Homo sapiens: one gene and its partners. The protein of the gene in region 1 interacts with the protein of each later gene in a biochemical or structural test. Each region holds a gene or a part of one and is shown on either strand. Other genes may lie near its edges.

Evidence for each region.
Region 2: the proteins of DOCK4 (region 1) and PDZRN3 interact in a test that uses a peptide from one of them, tested with the Homo sapiens proteins (one large-scale study listed by IntAct).
Region 3: the proteins of DOCK4 (region 1) and PTPN3 interact in a test that uses a peptide from one of them, tested with the Homo sapiens proteins (one large-scale study listed by IntAct).
Region 4: the proteins of DOCK4 (region 1) and PDLIM3 interact in a test that uses a peptide from one of them, tested with the Homo sapiens proteins (one large-scale study listed by IntAct).

Annotation. Positions count from the first base shown.
Region 1 is NC_000007.14:111,867,400-111,870,899, reverse strand, and holds part of DOCK4 (dedicator of cytokinesis protein 4), read left to right. Parts: intron 1-1,244; coding exon 1,245-1,326; intron 1,327-2,745; coding exon 2,746-2,916; intron 2,917-3,500. UniProt on the Homo sapiens protein: Functions as a guanine nucleotide exchange factor (GEF) that promotes the exchange of GDP to GTP, converting inactive GDP-bound small GTPases into their active GTP-bound form. Involved in regulation of adherens junction between cells.
Region 2 is NC_000003.12:73,600,942-73,604,441, forward strand, and holds part of PDZRN3 (E3 ubiquitin-protein ligase PDZRN3), read right to left. Parts: intron 1,521-3,500; coding exon 1,413-1,520; intron 1-1,412. UniProt on the Homo sapiens protein: E3 ubiquitin-protein ligase. Plays an important role in regulating the surface level of MUSK on myotubes. Mediates the ubiquitination of MUSK, promoting its endocytosis and lysosomal degradation. Might contribute to terminal myogenic differentiation.
Region 3 is NC_000009.12:109,379,808-109,383,307, reverse strand, and holds part of PTPN3 (tyrosine-protein phosphatase non-receptor type 3), read left to right. Parts: intron 1-860; coding exon 861-1,006; intron 1,007-1,520; coding exon 1,521-1,656; intron 1,657-3,500.
Region 4 is NC_000004.12:185,518,508-185,522,007, forward strand, and holds part of PDLIM3 (PDZ and LIM domain protein 3), read right to left. Parts: intron 1-3,500. UniProt on the Homo sapiens protein: May play a role in the organization of actin filament arrays within muscle cells.

The sequences.
Region 1 (3,500 bases):
CTAGTGTGAGGAGGTTACTGCTTCCAAGTTAAATTGTCTTTGGAAGCTAGAAAACAAGAGTATAATTTCTCACACTTCCGGTTGGCCAGGAAAGCAGGATCTTAAAAAGACAAATAAGGCTTGTGGAATCCTCTTAGGCTGGGGGTGATCAGAAACTCACTAGCATGTTATCTTAAAAAATAGCACTCCACCAACATCTACCTACTGGCACATCCAAGTATTCTCCCCTGACCCAGAGAAACATTGCTGGGTAAACTGTTTCCTAGAAACCAAGAACTGGCTGGGCACAGTGGCTCATGCCTGTAATCCCAGCACTTTGGGAGGCCAAGGTGGACAGATCATTTGAGGTCAGGAGTTCAAGACCAGCCTGACCAACATGGTGAAACCGGGCCTCTACTAAAAATACAAAAATTAGCTGGGCGTGGTGGTGCATACTTGAATCCCAGCTGCTTGGGAGGCTGAGGCAGAAGAATCTGCTTGAACCCAGGAGGGCGGCAGAGGTTGCGGTGAGCCAAGCCACTGCACACCAGCCTGGGTGACAAAGCAAGACTCTGTCTCAAAAAAAAAAAAAAAAAAGAAAAGAAAAAGAAAAAAGAGAAACCAAGAACTGACCAAAGTTCAAGGTGTAAGACTGTCATCTTGAGAGTTGTGGGCTGTTGTTTTTACATTTTTTCAAAACAGGAAAAAAAATTACCTTGGCCTTTCTAGAAATTCTCCTAAGGCACATATTGACATAAGCCAGGTTCTTCTCATGGGTCAGAAAATTGGCTTGATAAATCCATAAGGTGTGCATAGCAGTGGGGAGGCATTGTCTCCATCCCTCCTTCCCACCCCGTTTTGCCTGCAGCCTAATGATATTGCATCCAGCTGTTTACGTGGTCACTGGGAAAGAAATCCCAATGAGCAGTTTTACAGTATTGACCATGGCACTCACACTGCCAGGCACTTGGTTGGGCACAGTCCTTTTCTCCAATATTTGTGTTCACCCATTTGGAGGCATTACCAGAAACAGCAGGGCTATGGAATATGTCCAGATTGAGTGTTGTTTCTCCCTTAAGCTTTGAAAAGGGTGGCAGTGTTGATCTGCAGATTTAGTAAAATTATTATACAGCAGATTGACAGGAAAATGTGAGAACTGATGGGAAAAGAAACCTCCTCATGATATAGTTAAGAGTTGGATTTGTTGGCATTTAATTGAGAATTAGACCAATTTTACATTCTGCACATTTTCCCCTGTATTTTAGAGATCTCATCAAAGTGCTCAAATGGTACGTGGACCGGATCACAGAAGCAGAGCGGCAAGAGCATATCCAGGAGGTGCTGAAGGTGATAACATGCTGTTGATAACAGCAGAGTCTAACAAAGCTGTTGCATGCTGATGCTTAAACTAATTGGTTCCTCTACACAGACAGTAATGGGTGATGATGTATTACTGACATTCCAATTCAAGGATCTTAATCAGTTTGTGACTGCTTGAGAGCTGATGAAATTTGAAGGGGACTTTGCCAGGGTAGTCTACTGGAAACTGTTCAGGATTGAATCCTTGTTCCTCTGGGCTGGAGAGTACTTGAAGTGAAGTCTAAGATGAGCAGGAGAGAGGGAGGGTTTATGAGAGAAGTCTATATGGGGCAGTTAAGCTTAGAAGTTCCTGGCTCTTGCTTCCACCAACCTGACAGAGACCATCGGAGAACCATTTATGTTAAATTTTAAGAGCAAATAGGGTGGCTTAGCGGGGATTATAATGAGGAAACCTGAGGCTTTACCGGGTCTTGTGGCTTAACGCTGCCCACATCGCTGGGCACCATATGCTCAGTTGTCTGTGGAGATACTAATCCCTTACTTGCAAACATGTTGAAAAAGAGTACAAATTCTTAAAGGAATTGTCCAGTAACAGCCCTGGTAGTCTTCTGATTCCTGTTGTTGAGGACCATCCTATTTGGTGTCAGTAGCTTTAAGTAGACAATGTATACATTTTATAAAATAGCATTTTGTGAATTATTCATTTGTAATTTGGGCTGATTGAAGGTAAAATGCTAAGTGGCAAGAGTACTACCTGTCAAAACAAAATTATTTTTTAAAAAACAGTTATCTTTTTGTTGACTAAATTTAAAAAACATCTGAGGGTCAAAAACACTTAGTGTTCATCATACTCCAGAATGATAAAATTTTTTTTTTTTTAATTTTTTTTTTAGACGGAATTTTGCTCTTGTTGGCCAGGCTGGAGGGCAATGGTGCATTCTCTGCTCACTGCAACCTCCGCCTGCCAGGTTCAAGCAATTCTCCTGCCTCAGCCTCCCAAGTAGCTGGGATTACAGGCATGGGCCACCATGCCTGGCCAGTTTTGTATTTTTGGTAGAGATGTGGTTTCTCCATGTTGGTCAGGCTGGTCTCGAGCTCCTGACTTCAGGTGATCCACCCGCCTCGGCCTCCCAAAGTGCTGGGATTACAGGCGTGAGCCACCGTGCCCGGCTAAAGTGTTTTTAAATTTTCTATTAAAATTCTATTTCTTTTAAATTTCTTTTAAATTTAAAGTGTTTTTAAATTTTTTTTCTCTCATTAGGCATCAGAGAAAAGTGGCTGTTCCCCCTTAAAGTAAATACTGTTCAAAAAAGCCTCACAAGGCCTTGGTGTCTACATGAATAATGTAAAAGTTTAATGCCATACCATGGTTTTTATGCCGTGTCATTGCTAAATAAATACTCTTTGTCTCCTTTGAAGCTAACTTTTAAAAATTGTATTTTTAAGGCACAAGAATACATTTTTAAGTATATAGTTCAATCTCGAAGGCTGTTTTCCCTTGCCACTGGTGGGCAAAACGAAGAGGAGTTCCGCTGCTGCATTCAGGAGCTTCTCATGTCAGTCCGTTTCTTTCTTTCGCAAGAGAGCAAAGGGTCTGGAGCATTATCTCAGTCACAGGTAATTTCTTTTCATCTATGCTGAATAGAAGAAAACGATAAGTGCAGTTTATTTATTTTTACACAGCAGCGTAATCAAATGTTTTCTCCATCAGAAGTCAATTGCTCCAGTTTATATTTGTAGCTTAACCAACTTTATGAGTAGACTTTTAAAATTCCCCTACCTTCTGTGTACCAGCTGAGCAGAAGTGGGTTGCCTTTCCCTTCTCTCTCTGCATGGAGAGGCTATTGGTTTGCATCAGCTTCATTTCCGGTTACCAGAACACATACTGACGACTGGACATGCTGTCACCACCAGCCCTGGGGAAGGAATTTCACTAGGGCCAATCTCTTGCAGTTCTTTTCCCCAAGCTTCTCACTGCATTTTAATCTGTCAACTTGAGAATCATTATATTGGACTCAGCTAAGCTGCATGTTGTTTTGTTTTATTGAACTTGACCCTAATCATCCTGGGACTGATCTTTTAAGACCAGTGCAGAGCTGCTGCTGCCGCCAAACTCCATTACCGGAAGTAGCCCCACATGTTTTTTTTAAGAACAGGATCCATCTACTTCCCAAATAGCATGGCCTTGAATATGTTCCATG
Region 2 (3,500 bases), on another chromosome or scaffold:
AAGCTCCAAGTTTAAGAACCCTTCAAACATTCAAAGGGGATGCAACAATATTAATAATGTCCTTAAAACAAAATCAAGTATCATTTTAGCATGTAAGTTAGCACATCACACTCCCTCCGAGGAGGGAGCCTTACACCCTAACTAGTTCAGTTTGCTTTCCCTGTGAGATTTAACTGTGTATTTTCCTGAGGATTACAAATTATCCTGAAGCATACTGCACGTTGCAGAATGTGTCCAGATGAGACTGGAAATGCAAGACTTTGTTCTCTGTCTTGCTGAGGCTCCTTTCCCCAGGAGAAGCCTGTGGCCACATTCCAGTGAGTGATGTGAACTTCACTTATGGCTTAGCTCGTGGTCCTAGCTCCCACTCAGTCCTAAATTTTGAAATAGGCCATGAAAATACTCAGGAAATACAGACATGATAAAAATGCATGTGGAAAACAAACACCCACTGGTATCGGTGCTGTTTTTCTGGTTTCTTCTATTTGCACTATATTACGGCTGTGGCCCATGGGTGAATTTCTTGTGGGGTCTGGCATATCATCGTGGATTCTCAAATTTACTTTTTGCCTAATAGGAAAGCCAATCAATTTAGCCCATATGTGTATCCATCCAAAGAGCTATGAAAATGGTCAAAACACCAGTAAAAAATTACTCATTTATATCAAACTTTGCAACAAGAGCCCATATGAGAAGGCAACAAATCATTCTCTCCCTTTTAGTGACTCAGAGCATCCTAGAACACTGCAACCCTGTTACAAAGTGTTGTCTGGTGGGGCTGAGAGATCCACTTCCCCTACATGAGTCTACAAACCTGCTGTATAAAAGTTTGAAATGATGAATGACGAACTGAAAATGGAGTAAGTGATGATATGTGAACCCTAATATCAACCTCTGCCTGCAAATCCCTGGGCAATCAGGTTGTACAACTAACAACAGGCAAAGACGACAAACTAACAGAGAGAACAATGCATTTGTAGAAATAAGTGTGTGCTGTGTGAGCTCTGAGGACATTAGAATGACTCCAAAGCTGACACAATTGTACCCTGGTAATCAATATGAACAGGGTGCACAATTTGTACAACAGGGTTCGTTCATCTGGTTCTAACATCCAACTCTTCAACGGTTTTCGCGCGAAACTGTAACTGATGCATACGAAACAGATTGAGGTCCACATGAAAAAAGCCAAATTGTGAACATTCCACTCATAATCTGGCTTTTCTACATTTAACAAAAATTTAACACCAAGGCAATCAACACTCAATCTGGTCCCACACAATGGGAAAAGTGAGACTCCCGCTCAACCATCTACCACTTTAGGCCTCCCTCCCCAGTCAAACATCTTGCTTTGAGCTAGACGAAGATGGGATGGCATTCAGCCTATTCAAAGACACTGGCCAGTATTCACATACCTCAATAATCCTGTCATGAATTTGCAGGCCTCCTTCCTTGGCTGCAGGCCCACTGTCAACTATCTTGGATACAAAGATTCCTTCACTGGATGATCCATCGTGGTTATCCTTTGGGTTAAAAAAAAAAACATGCATGAATGCTAGGCATTAAGTTGAGCATGAAAGTAAAGCTTGCACTCTTAAAACAGTAATTGACTCTTGCTGTGTCAAGAGTGGCAATAGGGTAAAAGGTATTTGTTTCTCCTAATTTCTGTTTTAAACTAAAATACACACACAGTAAAATATTTCAAACCACACCAAAGGACATAAAATGATGCATCCCTGCCATCTCCAACCCATTGTCCTTCTTCCCCCGCCTATGGTAGCTATTTGACTTTATGCATCCTTTTGAAAACATTTTAACACATCATATTCCTAAATATGCATTTGTTCCTTTTTGCATACAAATGTGATTATGCTAGTCTGACTCTTATGTCCTTGCCTCTCTCATTTAACTCTAAAAATCATGAAGATCTTCTGCTACCAATTCGTGTCTGCCTTACTTCTTAAAGTGACTGAACAGTATCCAACATGAGGCTAATAAACACTGTTTTCATTTGCTGTGATTAAACAATGCTGTGATAATACTCTCCTACTTGTATTTTAAATTATCTTTGCTATTATAGTTCTAGGGCAAATCCCTAACAATGGAACTGTTGGGTAAAAGGATATGTACATTTCAAAGATATTGCCAAATGGCTTTTCAGAGAGTTTATACTTATTGTTCATTAGACAGAGTGTTTTCCCACATCCTCATTTGCACAGAATGTTATTAAACTTGTAAATATCTAATAATTTGACTGTGAAAACAGATATTTTGTTTTTGTTCCGATGCACTACCATCACTCTAGTCCTAATAAATTCTGATCTCTGACCTCCTTGAATCTCTTTAGATCTTTGAATTAAATGTCAGAACTAAAACTTTCTGGGAACGAAGACAGCTCACTGTTCAAACTCCTTCCTTTCCTTAAAATCAAAAGGCTCCAACAAGCTCATAAAAAACCCTCACAGCTTGTTCACGAACTTCTTTTCAAACAGCACTGCAATGAATTCTCTCCAAGTGTACGGATTAAATTTCTAGTGATTAACAGATGGATTTATAAATTAAATGGCACAAGCATGTGATATTTCCAAACAAAATCATTTGAAATGTAAGCTCAGAATGTTCCACAAAAACTCCAAAATCTAGTCATGGTAAATTCCTTGCCGTATGTCATTAGAAGATTTATTTCAATAACAATTACTCTGAATACAAATACATAAAAATTCCATTTGTTAAAAATAACTCTTCAAATAAAACATTTTCCACTTTAAACAGCAAAAAACAAAACCAAAAAACAATCCCTATATTCTAAAGGGGGAAGGAAACGACTTCAAGTGTGATTCAGTCTACCCCTTCAAATGCAACAGCAATAACTAAGCTTGGAAAAATGTACATTTCTCAGTCCTTCTCTCCTTCCTTCTTCACACTTCCCCAAACACACACACACACATACACACACACACACACACACACAGAGTAAAATGTTATATGATTCACCAAAAGAAACCAAAATCACAACCTAAAATGAGCATTAAGTGTTTTTCCTGACATTTATCCCCACATGACAAAGATATGTCTCTAACTGGCATCTGGATTCCATCAACGCTCTTCCAAGAGAAGGGTCAGGGAGCCTGTGGGTGCTGTGTAGGATCATCTATCCTCAAAAGGCATCCCTGCCTAGCATCACAGTGCTCTGCACAGACCTCCTGCACACTAACCCTTTACCATCTGAATACCTCTGTGCCTCCTTCCTCTCTCACGGCAGCCTTACTGAGGCACTAGTCTGAACACATCCGTGTAGCTCCCTACATGCACACCTGAAATATATGTATAAAGCTGCAAAGCAGCTTCCTTTACTGAGCACAAACTAGGTACCAGGTACATAGTGAGTGCTCTATGTGCACTGTTTAATCCTCACAATAACCACAAGTGGTAAGTACTATTATTACCCATTCCACAGGTGAAAAACCTGAGACTGAGAGAGGTTCGGAAACTCATCCAAGGTC
Region 3 (3,500 bases), on another chromosome or scaffold:
AGTAAGTGCGCAAGACTGCCCATCAAAGAGCCAGGGCCCAGAGTTCACAGTGGCCCTAGTCACAACAGGCACGAGGTGCAAACAGCCCAGTGTCCATCGATGGAGGAATGGATAAACAGCACGTGGTCTGTCCATACAATGGAATATGATTCAGCCTTTAAAAGGAAGGAGATTCTGACCCCTGCTACAACACTGGGGAACCTTGAGCATATTATCCTAAGTGAAATAAGCCAGACATAGAAAGACACATACTGTAGGATTCAACTTCTGTGAAGTGCCTAGAGTCGTCCAATTCATAGAGACAGAAAGTAGAACGGTGGTTGCCAAGGGCTTGGGGAAGGAGGAGAAAGGACATCTATGGACATTTTGCCATATGGCATAATGGGTGCAGGGTTTATGTTTGCGGGATATTTTAAAGTTCTGGAAATAGGTAGTGCTGATGGCTCTACAACATTGCGAGTATTCTCAATGCCGCTGAACTGTACATTTAAATGTGGTTACAGTGGTAAGCCTCATGTTAGTATATTTTGCCACAGTTGAAAAAAAAAAAAAAAAACAGTCAGCATGTGTGGCCTCTAATGGCAAGTACCATAGCAGCAAATGGAGGAGATCACTGGGCAGAGGAGATCACTGGGCAGAAGTGATCAAGGAAGGCAGCCCTGCAGGACAGGCCCACAGCTGAGCCTGAGAGGGGATGGGGATCTTTGGGGAAGGAGGGGAGGAATTGCTAGGGGCCACAGCAGGGCTGTGCGCAGAGGGAGAAAGCATCAGGAGACAGGGCCACCCTGTGTCTGGGTTGGGGCTGGGTCCTCATGCTCACCACCTGGATGGGCTCACCAAGGCCACTGCATCTCCCACAGACCGGGGAAGAACACACAGTGACACATCTCCAGTACGTCGCATGGCCTGACCACGGTGTGCCCGATGACTCCTCCGACTTTCTGGAATTTGTAAACTATGTGAGGTCTCTGAGAGTGGACAGCGAGCCCGTCCTAGTTCACTGCAGGTATGGCGCTTGCTGTTTTGTTAGGTTTGGAATCCTTTCCCTGTCGGAAAAGGCCTGGAGACAATTGGCAGGCGCCAGACCCACCCTACATCCCACAAAGTCGTGTGCCCTTACAAACCTCTGTTGACTGTGGTTCTTCACCATTTCAAAAGTTTTTTGGAATTTTATGAAATCCTAACTTTGTGAATGTAGCACAGAACTGAAGAAGAAAATCCCCTCACACACCCTTTCTCCTGTCCTTCTGTCAGCTGACCTTCGTCATAGGTGTGAGTGAGAAAGGGAATAGGTTTGGCACTTCACAGTGGCCCTCTTTCCACTGCCTGCTAGCCCCCAGTCTCAGATGTGTGAGGACAGGCTGTCTCAGCCTGTTTGAGAGCACGCCGTGAGTGTGCGTTTTGTCTTCTCGAAGGCCAAGGGAGGAAAGCCCCTTTGGAGTCAGCGGGGAACTGCTCGCTGGGCCATGCAGAAAGGCTACTCAGACAAATCCCAAGTCTGTCTTCTCTCCCCTCTCCAGTGCTGGAATAGGTCGAACCGGTGTGTTGGTCACTATGGAAACAGCCATGTGCCTAACTGAGAGGAACCTGCCCATTTACCCACTGGATATTGTCCGAAAAATGCGAGACCAGCGCGCCATGATGGTGCAGACATCAGTGAGTAGAAATCCAGTAATTACGGTGGCTGGCACTTTCTGAGCACTTACACCAGGCAGGCCTGAGAGAAGGGCTTTGTGAGTCAACAGACTGCAGCTCAGGGGGACTGAATCACTTGCCCAAGGTCACAGAGCTTGTCAGTGGCTACAGCCCACACCCATCTCACCTCTGAGCTCTGCTGCCTCTGTGGTTTATTTCCTGCCAGCCCGTCTGTCAGGGAGCAGCCCTGGTTGCATTCTGTATCGTTGAACAATCATTTGTCCATTATCCTCCCCCGCACCGACCCACCTAGACCTGGGTACTCCTTTTGGCTCAGTGGATGTTGCATATGACCCTACTTTGAGCTCTGTTCCACCCGTGTGGTGCCTGAGTACCTGCTGTGTCCTCCACGGGCAGGCCAGAGCTCAAAGTAGGGTCATGTGCAACATCCTCTTGTCCTCAAGAGGAACTCTAGGGGATAACTCTTGGGGATTTCCCCTGGAACTGCAAGCGGGGCAGTGAAGCGGTGTGGAAAGAGCATGATTAAGGTCCCACCACAAATGGAACAACCTTTGCATAAGTCCTGAACCTCTCTCCAAGCTTCAGCTTCCCTGTGCAAAATGGGGACCATCCCACATTCATTCATTCATTCATTTGACAAAGAAGGGTGCAGAGACAGGCTTGTATCTAGTAGGAGAACTGGATTAGTCTATGCTAAGTGTCAGCAGCGGTGAGGGAAGTTCAGGGCTGTCTGAGAACATGGTGGAAGAGTATCTAAAGCAGGATTTGGAAAGTCTAGGAAGGCTTCCTGGAGAAGTGTCTTCTCTGGTAAAAACCCCCAGGGTACATGAGGAGTTAGCAAAGAAAGGAGCAGGAACTATATGTTCCAACCAGCTCTGTCTCTTCACAGGCTGTGGACAAAGTTTATAAGATTTCCCTAATAAATTTTTAAGCTTTGGTAGTTTTATATTAGTTTGTACCCAGAAAATCTTGTTAAGAGAAAAAAAATCAGCTTATGTTATTAGGGCCATTCTCTGCCCTGTTTTTTGGTATGGAAGACCTCGTGGCTGGTTAAAAAGAAAAAAGTCCATCATCCTGGTAGATTTTCCCAGCTGGAAGCTGGGCACGGTGGCTCACGCCTATAATCCCAGCACTTCAGCAGGCTAAGGAAGGTGGATCACTTGAGATCAGTAGTTCAAGACCAGCCTGGCTAACATAGTGAAACCCCGTCTCTAATGAAAATACAAAAATTAGCCAGGCATGGTGGCATGTGCCTATAGTCCCAGCTACTTGGGAGGCTGAGGCAGGAGAATCGCTTGAACCCAGGAGGTGGAGGTTGCAGTGAGCCAAGATTACGCCACTGCACTCCAGCCTGAGTGACAGAACAGGACTCTGTCTTGAAAACTAGATAGATAGATAGATAGATAGATAGATAGATAGATAGATAGATAGATAGATTTTCCTAGCTGGAGAAGCTCAGTCTAAATGCTTTTATCCCCCCTGTATACTTTGCTACAATATGTTTCTTAGGTATTTGCTAAGATAAATAACTGTATCCTGCAGAGCATCTTTCAGTGGCTCTGCTTTGTAAAACACAATCCAGACTCCTTACCCCAACACAAGGTGCCCACAACCAGGTCCCAGCCCACCTGTGCAGCCCCTCCTCCTCCACATGCCTAGGTGTTGAGTCCAGGAGCAGGCTCCCTGACCCCGTTTCTCAAAATGGGCTCTTACTGAGGCTTCCACACTTCCACTTACAAGAAGGGCTGTCCCGCAGGGACTTTTGCTCCTTCCCACCTCCCCCAGACCGCCAGTTTCTCCCTCTGTCATGTCTCCATGACACTTTGCCCACCCCTCTCTGGGAG
Region 4 (3,500 bases), on another chromosome or scaffold:
TGAAAAAATGGTGGGCATATAAGAGAAACAAACTCTATGAAGTGATCTTATATTTGATCAAGGCATGATGAAGAAATTATATTTCATCACGTTTGAAGTTTAGAATCACTTCCTCCTCATACTCACCCCTCAAATAAACAGTAAAGTCACCCTCATCATCCTTTTTTCTCCAGTGAGCAGTTTCAAGTGTTTCCCATCTCTCACTGGGAAGAGCTTGAGGAAATGGTGACTATGAAAGCTTGTTTTATATGGGCTGCCTTCCAGTTACCAAAACACTTTTTATTTGTGAAAATAAAAATGACTTTATCCCACACTCTTCTTGACTGTGTATGTAAACTCTATTATCTTCTCTGGCAAGGATGCAATCCTTTTTATGGAAATGGAGACAGCTTTCTTCTTATTTAGATAAGAACCATTTTTGTTTCTGAAAGCATCTTTCTTGTATTGTGACAGGCACAGTATACCTTTGAGTTGTTCCACTAACATTAAGCAAATATGAGGGTTATGGTTTGAGAATGTAAGCTTTGAAAAAGGACAAAGAGCTTCATTAACATACTCTTAGTCAAGAGCAACACTTCGTACTAAAAAATGGACCATTTTGTCTATTTTTGTACAGAAAAATAGAGAAAAATAGATTGTGTTCAGGATTGCATGGAAGGCATTTATTCAGGTGCTGGGAGTTGATCTAAACAACAACTAACGTGCCCTTTAAGCCTAAGATTCAAGTCTAAACTCAGAGAAACAAAACTTAGCTATTTGATGATAGCATGGAAAAATTATTATTATTATTATTTGTGAGACGGAGTCTTACTCTGTTGCCCAGGCTGGAGTGCAGTGGTGCGATCTTGGCTCACTGCAACCTCCACCTCTTGGGTTCAAGTGATTCTCCTGCCTCAGCCTCCCCAGTAGCTGGGACCACAGGCGTGTGCCACCACATCTGGCTAATTTTTTGTATTTCTAGTAGAGACAGGGTTTCACCATGTTGACCAGGCTGGTCTCAAACTCCTGACCTCAGGTGATCCACCTGCCTCGGCCTCCCAAAGTGCTGGGACTACAGGCGTGAGCCACCATGCCCGGCCACATTTTAAAAATCTAGATATTAAAATTTTATATCAACTATTCCTATAACCATATAAGAAAATGTCTCCTTAGCTTAAACCTATTCACAGGGGAAAAAAACCCCCAGAAATAAACATACTAATATTTAATATCTGTGGCTGGGCTTGGATGGTATAGTTTTTTCCCCAATAAGTAAGTGAGAAAGTGTATTTTATTCCAATGTCAAAGGTCACATAACTTACAATAAAAGTTTGACTTGGGTTGAGAAACAAAAACTCAAATTTCATATTGTTCCATGGCCTTTTGCTATTCATCTGCAATGACATCCTGAAGCATGATAATATTAATGGCATTTGTTTCTCTAACTGACACGTATTTGCTGTCCAGAAGATTGCTGTATTTGCAGAGTTGTCATTTTGATAAAAAAGAAAAAGACATCTTTTTTGCACAGCTTTGTATTACTTAGAAAAACAAAAAACCCTATAACCATAGCTTAGCTTTTCTCTCGTCTCAGTCCACAAGTGAAACTCACTGTTTGACTTTTATCAGCACGTTTTGTTCTGGTTTACGCTAAAGGATTTTTGGATAGCAGGAGATACACTGCAATTTAGTTATTTTTGTGTAGGGAATGTCTGTCCTGAAGTACCAAGTTACATAAACTGGCCGTGCAGAAATCTGGCCTAAGAGTCTCATAAGGAGTAGAAATCCTTTGGTTCATTAGTAGAACTGAATTGTTCTTATCTTGGAGCATTTCAAACACCGGCCTCTTGGAGAGGATGTCAGTAAGAATTAGTCATGACGCAAAGTCATGGAATGTTTCAAGGCTCCATCTGACTGGCTGCTATAGCCCTTAACCTAATCTCAACCTTTAAAAAAAAAACAATTTAATCTCCTTTTTCTCATTTGTAGTATTGTAAATATTCATATTTTCTAACCCCCAAATGTAGGACACAAGGGCTAATACATGCTTGACAAGAGGTCAGAGTATTTAAAATTAGGATTATGCCTTAAAATCCCATCCTTAGAATAACCATAGTCATAAATTAATACTCATAGACTTGCAATAGAAGCCTCTGCTAGAGCTACAACTTGGAAAATTACCCTTAAACTCCAATTCTGGAGAGATGTTAGCAAAACGTGGGCTCCCATCCTGGTCTAAACTCACTTTGTGCTTAGTAAATACTTGCTGAATTACTTACATGCTGGGGTGACGGATGCAACCATGATGAAGGATCACTGGGGATTTGGTACTTCGGTCAGATCTATCTAGTTGGCCTCATTTCTTGCATCTCATATTAACGAAATTGGGTTTAAAAATTAGGAGAAATTCTTGCATGGAAAAATAAGTTGCAAAGGATGCAGTGCAATATTGGATGTGTGCTGTGTAGGGAAAAGGAAATGCAGAGTCCCTTCTGGTTGGTCCAGGTAATGATAAGAGGCTGAGTGGTCAATAAGTGCATGTCTATTGACTTTAATTCTTAAAAGCACCATATAGTCTCTTTTTCTCATGTGTCACCTCCAGGTGATAAATTGATGACGGTGGGAGGAAGCAGGTCAGCCTGGGCATCTCTGCAAAAGGCTAGATACAAGTGAGAACTCTACCTCAAGAACTTTCCTTTTTTCTTCCACTATTTTCTTCTAGCAAAGAAAATGTTGACTAGAGGTGTCATTATTCACCAGCCCACCTAGTATGTCAGGGGGAGTCGCCATCAGCATTCAGATCCCTTCTCATTATATTTATTATCTGTGCCATCCATTTTCTTTTGCTCACTTACCCCAAAGAGCAAAAGTCTTACCTAGCCTAAGTATCCCACTCAACTTTCTTTTCTTTTCTTTTTTTTTTTTTTTGAGACAGGGTCTTGCTCTGTCACCCAAGCTGGAGTGCAGTGGTGCAATCACAGCTCACTGCAGCCTCGACATCCTGGGCTCAAGCACTCCTCCCACCTCAGCCTTCTGTGTAGCTGGGACTTACAGGTGTGTACCAACATGCCCTGGTTAATTTTTAAAATTTATAGAAATGGGGTCTCACCATGTTGCCCAGGCTGGTCTCAAACTCCAGGGCTCAAGCAATCTTTTTGCCTCTGCCTCCCAAAGGATTATAGGTGTGAGTCAATGCGCCTGGCCCCACTCAACTTTCAAGATTACTTTCCATGCAACAGCTGAGAGTGATGGCAGAACACCATTTTGAGAACTGGCTCCCAGGACAGGTCCTGGCAATGTTAGAAAATGCACAGCTCATTTTTAGGCCCTCCAGTTCCTTTCATCCATTTGTCAGCTATTTATTGAGCTGTGGGCTATTTATTGAGCTGGAGGGACTCAGAGGGAAGACAACAGCCTCAAGGTTCCTGCCTTCATGAACATATTCTCTGTCCTGCTCACTCCTTTTGGGGCTTATTTTCTCCTACTTTTGCTTTTAGTGGATTTTAGATTCAGACTCTACC